2 separate regions of the Homo sapiens genome follow, and region 1 is linked to region 2. The links come from fine-mapping of genetic effects on gene expression. Tissue or cell type: whole blood. Region 2 holds a variant in brackets; the other region holds the start of a gene. Each region is shown on its reference strand, or each on the opposite one. Region 1 holds the start of OTX1 (orthodenticle homeobox 1). Region 2 overlaps CHD7 (chromodomain helicase DNA binding protein 7).

Region 1 (2,803 bases), not on the chromosome of region 2:
CCAGCGCGCACCCGGCCTTCTCTCTGCCCAGTCTGGGCTGCGGACCGCAGGGTCCCAGCAGGGGGTGAAGGGTGACTGGCCTAGCACCTCAAAGGGTCTCGGGGATTTGTGAAGCCGGAGGGCAGCAAGTCGCGTGCTGCCATCCTTGTAGCTGAACCCGCGGCCCCAGGACACGGTCGAGAACAGAGAACTAGGCCTCAGCGGCGTAGCCCACGCAGACCCGAGCTGGGAGGTCGAAGCCTCGCCCCCGCCGCTGCCGGGAACCCGGGGTGCCACTCTCAGGGGTCAGGGAGGGGCGCTGGAAACTGGGCCTGGGGCCCTGGGGGGCCATCGCTACACCCCGCTTAGCGGGATCGCTGTGAAGCAAGCCAGGGACTCGGGCTAGGACGTTCAAGGAGAGAAGTTAGAGCTAAAGAAGCTCCCCCCAGCCCCGTTCCCGCCCCCGTCTTCTGGGACCCAAGACCTGGGCTGAGGGAGTCCAGCTTGTAGGAAGGGGACCGGAAGGGAAGCAGCCAGGGCTCTAGGGCCGAAGGAAAATGGGACTCAAAGCTGCGACGGCTTTGCGAAGCTGCAGCGTGAGTTTTCAAAGACTTTCTCCAAACTTAGCACTTCAGCTTGGTTACTTCGGAGGAGGCGGGGGAGGGGGCTGCGGGCCGCGACAGCGCCCCGGGGTCCTCGGCTCACCAAGAGGGGAGCCAGGCCGCTCCCACAGCCCCGACCACCTGCTGGGGACCGGGGAAGCCGGGATCCATTTGAGGAGGGGGAGATAAGGGTAACCAACGCGCTCCCGGAGTCCGGGGTGGCCCCGCGGCTTTCTCCTTACCTGCCCTCAGCTGCCGGGGCCGTTCACCATCTACCTGGATCTCTCACAGAGACCCGCCGGGCAGCCAACCTGCAAAACAGAGCAGCACTGGAATTACCCTGGCGGCTGGTCTAGGACCCCCAGGTTTCTTTCTTTTCCCAACTTCCTTCTTCCCACCTCTATCTTTTTTTTCAATGGCTTTGTGCGTGTCCTTCTGGGTTTCACTTTATTGCACAGACACTTTGTTTGCTAAGCCCCACACGTTCTCAGGACATTGCCTCGCCTGGGATCGCGCCGAGGGGCCGCAAGGGGGGGAATTCGAGGGGCAGAGTTGGGAGGTGGCTCGGCGTTGCCGCGGCACTCCCGGTGCAACGTGGAGGCAGTGGGGACTGGGAAGTCCTGCAGAGTCACTTTGCAAACTAAATAAATCAAGCGATTTACCTTGTCGGAGTGGCTTGTCTTGCTCGGTTGTTTAGGTGATTGGAAATGTAGCCTGATGAAGATTGATCACCTTTCTACTGCCCTCCCCGGGTATGTGAACGCGAGGCGAGTGCGTAACGGGGCTAGGCCGCCAATCGGGGGCCCCGCGCGGGCTGAGTGACAGGGAGCCGGGCAATGGCTGCGCGAGCCGGGGGTTACCTCCGCGCGCCCCCGCCCTCCCCCGCCCCCCACACCCCGCCCTCCCCGCCCTCCCGCCCCGCCCCGGTCGCGCGCTAACTCCGGGACTCGGCTGGCAAAAGCGGCGCAGAGCTAGGCGAGGAAGGCGAGCGGAGAGCCCGAGTCCTGGCCGCGGAGGGGGCCGTGGGTCTCCAGGCCTGCCCTGGGCGCCCCCGCCCTTCTCGCGCTCTCGGCGCTCCGGAGGGAGTGGCAGGGAGGAGGCGAGGTGCTGGAGAACCGGTTCCTTCGCTCTCCCGCGCGCTACAGGGCTCAGCCGCTCGGGTGTGGGCGCCAGGACCCGGGGGCGGCGGGCTGGAGGAGCCCGGGCCTCGGCCCCTCTCCCGGCGCCGCGGGCCCCAGCGTTTTCTTCCCCGGCGCCGCCACCTGAGACCGACGCCGCGGGCTGCTCGTGCCGGCGCAGGCTACTTTGCAGAGCGCGGGAGCAGCTCCGGGCGTGCAGATCTCTCCTCGGCCCCTCCGGACTCTCGCGCCTGGGAAGAGCACCCACTGGGAGGGCGCCGCCACTTACCTGCTTGCTCGTCGGCATCTCCCGGGGTTCCAGGTCCCCACCAAGGGTGTTTGCAAGTCTTAAGCGCTTCTACTGAAACGTTGGAGCCCAGCGTCCTCTTCCCCTCACACGTACACCCTACTTCTTAATTGAAACATTTTGATAGGAAAGTTTCTTTTTCGCTCTTTCTCTCTCTTTCTTAGACTGCCTCTAACAGGGACTTTTTGATGGAAAATGTGGCCACAGACCCCTGCCCTCAACTTTTTTCCACATGCTGCGTAAGGATCCTCCTTGAGGCGATTTCCCCGGATTGTTCGTACGGGCGAAGCCCATTTCCCACCCGAAAAAACTTCCCAAACACGTCTACCTGGGTGGACTTTTAAAAGTGCAAAAAAGAGTTTTCGTTCCAACTCTAAGCTAGGCGAATCTTTTAAATGGCACCTCCTCCTGAAAATTAGGCACTTTATTCCCTTTCGAGGAATTTCTACCCCTTGTTTCTAATCTCCCCCACTCCCCCACCCCGACAGGCGGGGTAAAAAGTTTGCACAGGATTAAGTGTGAGGGCAAGTCAAGGAGCCTCCAGGCGCATCGCAGTGGGGAGCACTCGCGCTGCCCGGGCTGCGGGGTCGGGCGCCGAGAGCGGACCGGGCGCTGGGTGAGGAGGAGGAGAACGAAGGGGGAGCCCGCTGAGTGAAAAGGGGCCGCGGCCGCCGCTCATCAAAGTGCTTCCCCCTCCCCCAAGCGACACTTTCCTTTGGAGTCCGAATAAAATACGGTAACAGAATATGATGGAGGGCACACTGTTTCCTTAACTGCTTCTCAAAGGACCCGGGAGA
Region 2 (2,803 bases):
ATTTATGGGTCTAACTCCTCCTCCCTGTTTACACTAGCTCTGAAGTAATCAGACCTTCATGGTTTAGTGAACCACAAAAAATTAGAAATCTAATCAGTTCTCCTAATTCTGGTCTCAACGCTTTCACACTACTGATTGAATGATCTTATAAAACACAGATTACATCATACCTCTCCCTGATTAAAATCCTTAAAGGACCTCCCATAGCTTTCAGGTTCCAGTCCAAATGCTCCAGCATGCTTGAAGGCACTAATAATCAAATCCTTATTGACCTGTCCATTCTCAACTCCCTTAACTCCCTTCCCTCTATCCCCTGAAGCACTCACAAACACCCCCATTAGGTATATCAAACTACTCAAAGTTTACCAACCATCCATCAGCTATCTCATACCTTCCTCGCCTTCACACCCATGGTCTCTTCCCTGGCCTCCTTATCCCCTCACTGTAGAGGCTGGCCTCTTTTTCATCTCAGTTCCTTTGTTATCACCCATCTTCGGAAGCTTCCTGACCCTCAACCCTCCCTCTTCAGGCTGATTTCAAAGCCCTTGCTAGCAGTACCACCACATCAACATGGGCAGAAGCTACAAAAGTGCCAAGCACGCTACTATTCTTATGTGTTCACCTCCCTCTCTTTCTGGCGACTGGAGCCTTGCCATGTGAAGTGGAATCCTGAGAGACAGGACCCCTGGCACCCCCGGGAGCTGGTAAGAGACGCAGACTCTCAGGCTCACCTCAGACCTCCTGCACCAGAATCTGCCTTTATTAACAAAGGCCCCAAGTGATTCCTGTGCATGTGAAAGTTTGGGAAGTCCTGCCCTCAGACTCTGAGCTCCTCCTACAGGATAGCACACTGACCACTCAGTTAATATAATGGATCAACAACAAATGGCACATGTTACAAAGAATATTATAAAGCAATACAAAGATATGTCACTTAAAGAAAGTAGTCTTGACATTTGTGTCTGACAAATAAACAATACTGACTTCATTCAAAGAATTATGAACAGCCCTTAGTGACAAATTTAATCTGTAACAGTTTACAAGGAGTGGGTATCTAAAGATGGTTTAATTTTAAAGATATGCCCATCTGTTTGCCAATCATTTGTGCAAGTCAAAAAAATGCAGTTAACATTAATATCTAATGCTATGTTACATAACATACTATTTCACAGGTTTCTTGCAGAAATCTTTCAGTTATTTCTACATAACTTTGAAGACTCTGGATATTCTGAGTAGCCTTTAT[G/TG]ATAAAAAAAAAAAGCTGTTCTTTTGTTCCTTCATGCAGTATTGAGGCTAACGTTTCCTTTCAAGGCAACTAATGAAATAGCACTTGGCTAACAGCTTATACTAAGTGCATGCCCACAGCACTAGCTTTTTCCAAAGTGGTCAAAAGGAGTATATTACCCCATACATAAATTATGCCACAAAAGCACAAGGATCATGAAAATTTGTGTCCTTTACACCCTGCAATTCAAAATTCAAATACCTCTCTGAAGCTAACTCCTAAAGGCTAAGCCCACTGAGAAGGTGGCCAGCACCTTGACCCTAACGTGGAGACAGCTGACCTGCTGCCGCAGTGCAGACACTAAGAAAATATGTCCAGCAGGGTCTTCATTCCATGTACACAACATGTCCTAGGAACAGATGGGCACACATTCTAATAGCACCTGAAGTACTCAACATTGTATGGCAAAAGAGAAATGAAGACAAACATGTATCTATATATACCATACCTAGGTGTAGATCACATATGTAGCTACATAAAATATGTGTATCTATCCCATATCTTTTTTTTTTTTTTAAGAGACAGGGTCTCGCTCTGTCACCCAAGCTGGAGTGCAGTGGCACAATCATAGCTCACTGCAGTCTCCCAACTCCTGGGCTCAAGTAATCCTCCCAGTGCGGGCTCCCAAGTAGTTGGGACTATAGTTGTGTACCACCACACCCAGCTAATTTTTTTTTTTTCCTGGGAAACAAAGTCTCACTATGTTGCCCAAACTGGTCTTGAACTCCTAGGCTCAGGGAATCCTCCTGCCTCAGCCTCTTAAAGTGCTGGGGTTACAGGTATGAGCCACTGCACCAGGTCTCATATCTTTTGAATGTTATCCTAATTAATTGTAATATGGTAGAGAAGAAAATCAAATGAAGAGACAGGTCTAGAAATAAGTAAATGAAAACTTTTTAAGTAATTTATTTTGGATAGGAAAAAAATTAAATTTCAGAAATGTATTTCAACCCACCTGGCAAGAATGCTTACAGTGCAGACTTATGGAAGAGTAATGTATATTTTACAAAATTTGCTGATTGCTAGTATGTATCTTGCTTAATATTATAAAATATCCTGGGTTTTGTAAAGCCCAGGGTGGTGTATAAAGGCTAGTAACACCATGTTTATTAGCCTGATTTTAAAAAAATCACCATTAGGAAAGATTTTCCCACTTATTCTAGACTTATTTCAAGCTACTGACTTGACACACAGAAGCTCCAGGTGATGTCAAGCCTACAAAAAGTGAGGGTGGAACAGAAGGAAGGGAAGGAAGGAGCTGCCCTGTGGCCATGCTCTGTCTGGGGACCCCGTGGCAATCACCAGCTCCTATAAGGCTGACACTGAACCTCTGGAGGAGGATGCAGAGGTGAGGCAAGGGCAAGCATGCAGAGGGGCTGAGAAAGCAGCAAACAGCTAGCTGCTCTTGTAAGAAGCGTGCTCTTCGTGTACTGACTGCAGTTGTCACTGATTAACTAACTGATTTGGCAATTTCCTACATTCTTCTACATTTTAAAAAATTTCTGGAAAGCTGAAAAGGGA

The links. PIP is the estimated chance that this variant, and not a neighbour inherited with it, causes the effect. A credible set is the group of variants that fine-mapping cannot tell apart.
Region 1: it holds the start of OTX1, and the variant in region 2 is the best candidate, but not a certain one, in a credible set for the expression of OTX1 in whole blood (TOPMed, PIP 0.87).

What each region holds. Positions count from the first base shown.
Region 1 is chr2:63,049,338-63,052,140 of GRCh38, reverse strand. OTX1 (orthodenticle homeobox 1) reads right to left here and starts at 1,311. Exons shown (of 5, transcript NM_014562.4): 1 at 1,244-1,311; 2 at 824-892. RefSeq lists a silencer at 1,286-1,945 and enhancers at 2,062-2,803, 2,173-2,803.
Region 2 is chr8:60,732,233-60,735,035 of GRCh38, reverse strand. All of the region lies in intron 1 of CHD7 (chromodomain helicase DNA binding protein 7), which reads right to left. Among named protein-coding and RNA genes, the nearest start is that of CHD7, 55 kb to the right of the region's middle. The variant G/TG (reference allele first, on the strand shown) is at 1,244.